Linked DNA regions of Homo sapiens. The protein of the gene in region 1 interacts with the protein of each later gene in a pairwise test. Each region holds a gene or a part of one and is shown on either strand. Other genes may lie near its edges. The genes, in order: RNF38 and DZIP3.

Region 1 (3,825 bases):
AGGAGTGTGATTTAGAATCAAATTGAGGGCCTACTCAAATTATATCTCCTACTAAGCTGAACTCACAGCTGAGAATTGATGTCTTATTGATGGGAGATTGTAGTGTAGTGTAATTTTTCAGGTGGTTTGGGAATTTAAAGAGAAGGTCGAGTACTACACGAAAGTTTTATTATGCTGTTTTATACCCTATATGTCGTTACCTCATTTGCCTTAGAATGAGTTTTTAAAAACAAAGCTTATTTTTCACTTCGTATCATTTACTGTGCATCTCCCTCCCCTGTTCTACCCCATCCCAGCATTTTTTAAAGGTTTTAAATTTGAATTGATAGCATATATTTTTTTCCCCGCTTTACATTTTTAGATTTTAGGTTAAGTACATCCTAACACCTGTGCATATGCAGTAATGTGAAATCTTTAAAAGATCTTACTCAGTTGATCCATTTTGTTGCATTGGCAGAGTGAAGATAGTCCAAGTCCTAAGAGACAGCGCCTCTCTCATTCAGTCTTTGATTATACATCAGCATCACCAGCTCCCTCACCACCAATGCGACCATGGGAGATGACATCAAATAGGCAGCCCCCTTCAGTTCGACCAAGCCAACATCACTTCTCAGGGGAACGATGCAACACACCTGCACGCAACAGAAGAAGGTTAGTTGATTACAATTTATTTCTTAAGTTTTCTTCCATTGGTAGATTTGTGAGTATATTTAACATCAGAAAACATTTTTTCTGTAGGCATTTCATAAACACATCACCACATATACACGTACATTCACTCACGAAAAAGAAAGTTGCCTAGATTTCCAGTAGGTTAGAAGAGTTTATTTAGCTTATCATTGACAGATGAAGAAATGGAAAGAGGCTAAAATCAGTCGATGCCATTATATATGAAATTAGCTACTTAAGGTACAGATTGTTGTGGACTAGCCTGCGATCTTGACTATTAGAAGATGCATTTTGTAGTTCATAACTGTAAGGATATATGGAAGTCTTAGAAATGAGCTACTCCTTTTCTACTCCATTCCTTTTCCTTCTGTATCCTCAAAGGCAATTAGGAGCTTAATTATGTTTCTTATAAACCCATGGAGACTTGGCACAGTAGTAGCTCATGCCTATAATCGCAACATTTTGGGAAGCCAAAGTGGGAGGATCACTTGAGGCCAGGAGTTCGAGACCAGCCTGGGCAACATAGCAAGACCCTGTCTCTCTCAAAAAAACAAAAAATTAGCTGAGGATGTTGGCGCACATCTGTAGTCCAAGATGAAACTGAGACAGGAGGATTGCTTGAGCCCAAGAGTGTAAGGCTGCAATGAACCTTAGCTATGATTGTTCCACTGCACTCTAGCGTTGGTGACAGAATGAGACACTGTATTTAAAAAACAAAACAAAAAACAACTGTGGAGCCCGTGGTATGAAAAGATGACAAGTTTAGTTCAACTTTTAGGCAATGGGATTTGGCCCTTGTCTTTTCATCCTAGAGGAGTGCATTTCTTCCTGAGTTTCTTCCTCATTATTTGTTGCCAGAGGTCATGTATTTCATATCCCAGGGAAATAGTGAGTGCATTGTGAGGTGCATATCCAGGATGTTGAAGGAATATCAATGATCTTGAGTTAGGAAGGTGTTGCAGACCAAATGTTTGTAACCCCTCCTCCCCAATTAATGTGTTGAAGCTGTAACCTTCCTGTAACCCTCAGTGTGGTTGTATTTGGAGATGTGACCTCTAAGGAAGTGTAATTAACGTTAAATGAGGTCATAAGGTTAGGACCCTTACCCAGCAGGATTAATGTCCTTTAAGAAGCAATGCGCCGGGGTGGCTCACGCCTGTTATCCCAGTACTTTGGGAGGCCAAGGTTGGCGGATCACGAGGTCAGGAGACCATCCTGGCCAACATGGTGAAGCCTCGTCTCTACTAAGATGCAAAAAATTAGCCAGCTGTGGTGGTGCGCACCTGTAGTCCCAGCTACTCGGGAGGCTGAGACGGGCGAATCTGAGGCAGGGGAATTGCTTGAACCCAGGAGGCGGAGGTTGCAGTGAGCCAAGACCGCACCACTGCACTCCAGCCTGGAGACAGAGCAAGACTCTGTCTCAAAAAGAGATGTCGGGGAACTCATCCTCCACCATATGAGGAGACAGTGAGATGTAGTTGTCTGCAAGAGCCAGGGAAAAGATCCCTCTCCAAAAACCGACTATGTTGGTACCTTGATTTCAAACTTCTAGGCTTTAAAACTTTGAGAAATTAAGTATCTGTTTAAGCCACCCAGTCTGCAATGTTTTGTTATGGCAGCCTGAGCGGGCTAATGCAGAAGGGATCTTAAAACCAGCATTCTGTGTTCCAGCTGAAAGAACATAAACCTGTCTCTGAGCTCTATTCTGTTGAGACATTAAGACTTTTACATTACCCAGTACCTTATTAACCAATTACATGGGAATGTTTTTAGGTAAGATAGTATATGGCTAGCAGATAAAGTATTTTATAGCTATTAAATATAATAAGCATGAGAAAGTATAGTTATTGCAAAGTTAAGGCCTGAGTACCTGCTGTAGTCTTCCTATTTTATGATGAATAAAACAAATGTACAGTTAAAAGGCAGGCCGGGCGCAGTGGCTCGCACCTGTAATCCCAGCACTTTGGGAGGCCGAGGTGGATGGATCACCTGAGATCAGGAGTTCGAGACCAGCCTGACCAACATGGTGAAACCCTGTCTCTACCAAAAATACAAAATTAGCCGGGTGTGCATTGCACTCCAGCCTAGGCAACAAAAGCGAAACTCCATCTTAAAACAAAAAACAAAAAAAGGCTAGCAAGGCCGGGTGCGGTGGCTGACAACGTGTAATCCCAGCGCTTTGGGAGGCCGAGGCAGGCGGATCACCTGAAGTCAAGAGTTCGAGACCAGCCTGGGCAAAATGGCAAAACCTGAGATCGCGCCACTGCACTCCAGCCTGGGGGACAGGGTGAGACTCTGTCTCAAATTAAAAAAAAAAAAAAAAAAAGGGCTAACAAATACATACACCCACCACCTAGGTGAAAATTAGTGTTATTGATCCCTCAAAGGCCTCAGGTGCTACCGTTCCCCTTCATTTTTCTTAGAGGGTAACCTTGTTCTGGAATTTGACATTATTCCCTGTTCAGTCATAGTTTTTAATACTTAGGAATGTACTGTTAAGATAATGTGATTTTGGTTTTTGCCTGTTCTCCTTTAAATGTATTTTTCTTTGACTGTTTATTAAGCATTCTGTTTTTAATGTTGATAGCAGTAGCAATAGTTCTATTACTGTGATATAATGTTCCATTATATTAATGTACCACACAATTTATGTATCCGCCTGCTGTTGTTGGCTAGTAGCTATGCCCAGTTTCTTAACTTTTTTATTGGAAATGTAGTTTCAGTCTTGTTGCCCAGGCTGGAGTGCAATGGTGCGATCTCGGCTCACTGCAACCTCCACCTCCCACATTCAAGTGATTCTCCTGCTTCAGCCTCACAAGTAGCTGGGATTACAGGTGCCTGCCACAACACCCAGCTAATGTTTTGTATTTTTAATAGAGATGGGGTTTCACCATGTTGGCCAGGCTGGTCTCAAACTCCTGACCTCAGGTGATCCATCCACCTCGGCCTCCCAAAGTGCTGGGATTACAGGCATGAGCCACTGCACCCGGCTCTTAGTATTATAAACAATACTGTTAGGAACCTTTGTGTGTGCATTTCTCTGTGTACATGTGCAAAAGTTTCATTAGGATGTAAGTCTAGGAGTAGAATTGCTAGTCACAGGAAATGCCTTGGACCAGGAAGGGAGTGTCAGAAATGTCTGTTTACAGATGATGA
Region 2 (3,825 bases), on another chromosome or scaffold:
TTCTGTCCTTAAATAATCACTGATGAATAAAGGAACAACACATAATGTCAATAAGTAGGTTACTGATAAAAGTTCACAGATGCTCACTTACACACATGGATGTAACAAAGGAGGAAGACACTTTTTAAAAAGCAACATATTCATGCCTATAAGATGAAAGATCTAAGGATAATTTAGTGACTATATAATAACTGTTACCACTTATTTGTAAAGAAATACGGAGATTCCATTCTGGACGAATTTCATTCTACCTCTGCGCAAATGGTTTTGAAATATCCCACTTTTCTCTTCCTTTCTTTCCTCTCTATTTTAGACTATACTTTCTTCTACTTTCTAATACCTTCCCACATCCACTTCAACTGGGATTAAAAAAACATATTACAGTCTAGCATAATGCCTGCCACATAAGTGTTTAAGAAATGGTGGCAAAATAAATGGTTATGGCAGGAAAGATTATGGAAGGAAGTACTGAGGCAAGGAAGGAAAGGACCATTCCAATTCAAGCTCTGTATAAACACTATGAAAATATAAGCTAAAATTATCTGGGATGCTTTAAGTACAGCACATGCAACAAATTAAAGGCCCAGAATAAGTTCTTCTAACTCAAATATTAATGAGAGCTTATACTTCCTGGAGATCTTTAAGAGATTCTGTTGAAGATTCACTGGGTATTGAGGTCCCATCTTTATTAATTTCTGCAAACTGTATCTCAGGGTGTGATTTCACATTTATATTGTACTCCATGAGAGGTGGACTTAGTTCTTCTTCCTCATTCTGTAACTCTTCTATTTCAATACCTAAACATAAAAGACAAAATTCTCAAAATCTAGATGAAAGCAATTTCAGCTTCTTATCAATGTTATAATGTTTGCCCAAAAAAGCAACATTCACAAAACAGAAATAAAATATATCTTACTCTTTTCAATTACTCGATGAAAATGTGATGTTCATTTATCAGTTACCAAATAATATGTACAAACACCAGCCTGGAACTAATCAGTGTGAACCTGAGTGCTATGTTACCTACTGGAATCTTAGGTAGACTCTAGATATTAGATACTCTAGAACATAAGTAGACTCTAAATACTAACTTTTTGCATGTCCTGACCTTGATCCTATTAATAATGCAACTAGTATTATTTTAGCACATATATCTGAAATATAAAGAAAAAGAAGACAAAAGATCTATTTTTTCTGTTTTCTTTTTCATAAGAGGGGTGTGAGCCCCCTATTATGTGACCTTTTCTTTGAGACTTTGCTCCTTGATATTGCCCCAGAGACTCAGTCTCAAAACTTGTGGACTTTGTCTGACTGGTCTCCAGAGAGTCCAGCATTTTATCCCAAACAAATCTGTGGTGGTGTTTTTTTTAAGTATAATTTTAATTGAATAATATTAATTACACTTAAAAAAAATAGCACAAAAATGGAAATTAAACAATTACAACTTATCACCTGGCAAAAAAAGTATATAGCTATAAACAATAGACAGACTAAATAAAGTTATACACGCTAAACACCAAACAGAGAAAGCAGGAAGGTATTTTTGCCTGCTGAAGTTTTTGTGAGTAAAACGTTAGAACATCATCCTTGGGAAAACCCTGAAGCACATGCACTAAGCCAAAGGCAGAATAAAGCTCATTCTCGATTCAGCCAGACCAGTGGTGATTTGATCACATCATTTTCCAAGTTCTTTTTTTTTGAGACTGAATCTCGCTCTGTCGCCCAGGCTGGAATGCAGTGGCGTGATCTTGGCTCACTGCAACCTCTGCCTTCCATGTTCAAGCAATTTTCCTGCCTCAGCCTCTTGAGTAGCTGGGACTACAGGCACCCGCCACCACACCTGGCTAATTTTTGTATTTTTAGTAGAGACGGGGTTTCACCATGTTGGCCAAGATGGTCTCGATCTCCTGACCTTGTGATCCACCTGCCTCAGCCTCCCAAAGTACAGGGATTATAGGCGTGAGCCACTGCGCCTGGCCCAAGTTCTTCACAATTATAGTTTATCATTTAGTTTATCTGAACAAATAAAAATTTCATAGGTATCCCTTGTTAAAAAGTCATTTACACATTTTATTTCTAAATATACTTACGCTGACTGCCTGTTATTGACTGTAGAGCAATTCCTATAATACATAAAGAAAAATTTTAGATGTACAATTGCAAACGCAACAAATGAATGTCTGGCTAGGATTAAGGCAGAATATTTTTATATTGCACCAATTTATTCTGTAAGTAACTGGAAAAATAACCAGCTTTGCTCATCAATCCAGTTTAGACAAGGCACAATCTTTAGATTATCACATAAAGGTTATAAACCCATGATTAGAGAAAAAAAAGTAAACAAAAATGTGGTATCACAGATAAAGCCTAGAACACAAGCACTTTAAACCAAGCAACGAATATTTATGTTTACCATCTAAGGCCATGAAATAATAGTTAATTACACAGCAAACCTCCACTGAAAGTTGGGACCTATTTTTAGCAATCTGATTTATCTGATCATCACTTGCTCTCCTTGCCCATTAATATTTATTGAGCACCTACAATGTACATCAGGCTGTGTTAAGCTCTAGAGATTGAATGGTGAAGAAAAAAAAAGACAATCTTCATGGAGATTTAGTGGGATGATGGATGTTAATCAAATTATCAGATATCCAAATAAAAAGCAACTAGAATAGCTGAGGAAAGAAATATAAGATGGTAAGAAAGCCTCTAGTAAAGGGACTTGACCAATAAGCTCTTCAGTGTACTTGAGTAAGAACTGCTTAAAATGCTTTGAATTGAATGGGTGCTCAAAACTCTTTCTCAAATACTCTATTCTCATGAATTATTTAAAATCCTAATAGAGTAAATGTATTTTTTAAAACCCTAATTTATAAGTCAAAAATTCTTGCCTGACTTTCTTATATATCAAACTCAGTGTCCTCCTCTTTCATTCTTAGATTATGCAAGAAAACAAAGGTATTCCAGAGCCTTAGTAAATACCAGGACTGAAATTGGGCACATCAATTATCTCTGAAGAAAATCTGGACCAGTTCACTAGAAACTTTTACAGTTGTATGTTTATATAGCATCAGTGTGGTTATCAGTTGTTCATTAGGCTGTAAATAACTTGAGACCAGGAAGTCATCCTGAATAGCACAGCAGGGTTTCAGAGATGTTGTCATGCCTTGAACTCTGCTTTCCAAAAGAATAGCTGAGAAGGTATCCTGAGATGTGGGAAAGGAGGTCTGAAGTCTTTTCCGTATCAATAGACAAGTTTGGGAGTGGCCAATACAAACACTTGCATGAATGTTACCTGATTTTTAAAATTATCTACAGCCAATGAATAGCTGCTAAAATTGTAAACTAAACAAGATTCTGCTAGAAAGTAGAAGAAACATACATCCACACTGTGTCTAAACGAACATCTTTGAAACCACACAGTACTTACATGTCATGGTTTTAAACTTTATTAATTTTGGAGAATAAAACTCCACTTAAAGTGATAAAACTGTACTCAAAAGTCTTCAACAATTTCTTTCTGAAAAATGCAGACTCCTTAATGTGACAAAAAAATCCTCTTGAATGTACTCTATGAACTCTCCCCTACTTTAATCTCAATGAAGCCAACATTTTTTAGTTGCCTGCAGTATATTTTTATGTTTCTATACCTTTATTTTTGTTTCCCTCTGAAACATTCTTCTCAGTCTGCTTCACCTGGCTAACTTCTGCACACCATTAATAGTTCTTTAACTATGATACTCTCCAGAAAGCTTTTTTGGACTTCTTTAGCCTAGGATTTCCCATGGTATTCTGGAAACATCTCTAGCACTATAATTTCTA

What was found.
Region 2: the proteins of RNF38 (region 1) and DZIP3 interact in a two-hybrid assay, tested with the Homo sapiens proteins (one large-scale study listed by BioGRID and IntAct).

The regions. Positions count from the first base shown.
Region 1 is NC_000009.12:36,372,760-36,376,584, reverse strand, and holds part of RNF38 (E3 ubiquitin-protein ligase RNF38), read left to right. Parts: intron 1-457; coding exon 458-651; intron 652-3,825. UniProt on the Homo sapiens protein: Acts as an E3 ubiquitin-protein ligase able to ubiquitinate p53/TP53 which promotes its relocalization to discrete foci associated with PML nuclear bodies. Exhibits preference for UBE2D2 as a E2 enzyme.
Region 2 is NC_000003.12:108,644,915-108,648,739, reverse strand, and holds part of DZIP3 (E3 ubiquitin-protein ligase DZIP3), read right to left. Parts: intron 2,124-3,825; coding exon 2,091-2,123; intron 798-2,090; coding exon 628-797; coding exon of another isoform or gene 622-627; exon of another isoform or gene 1-621. UniProt on the Homo sapiens protein: E3 Ubiquitin ligase proteins mediate ubiquitination and subsequent proteasomal degradation of target proteins.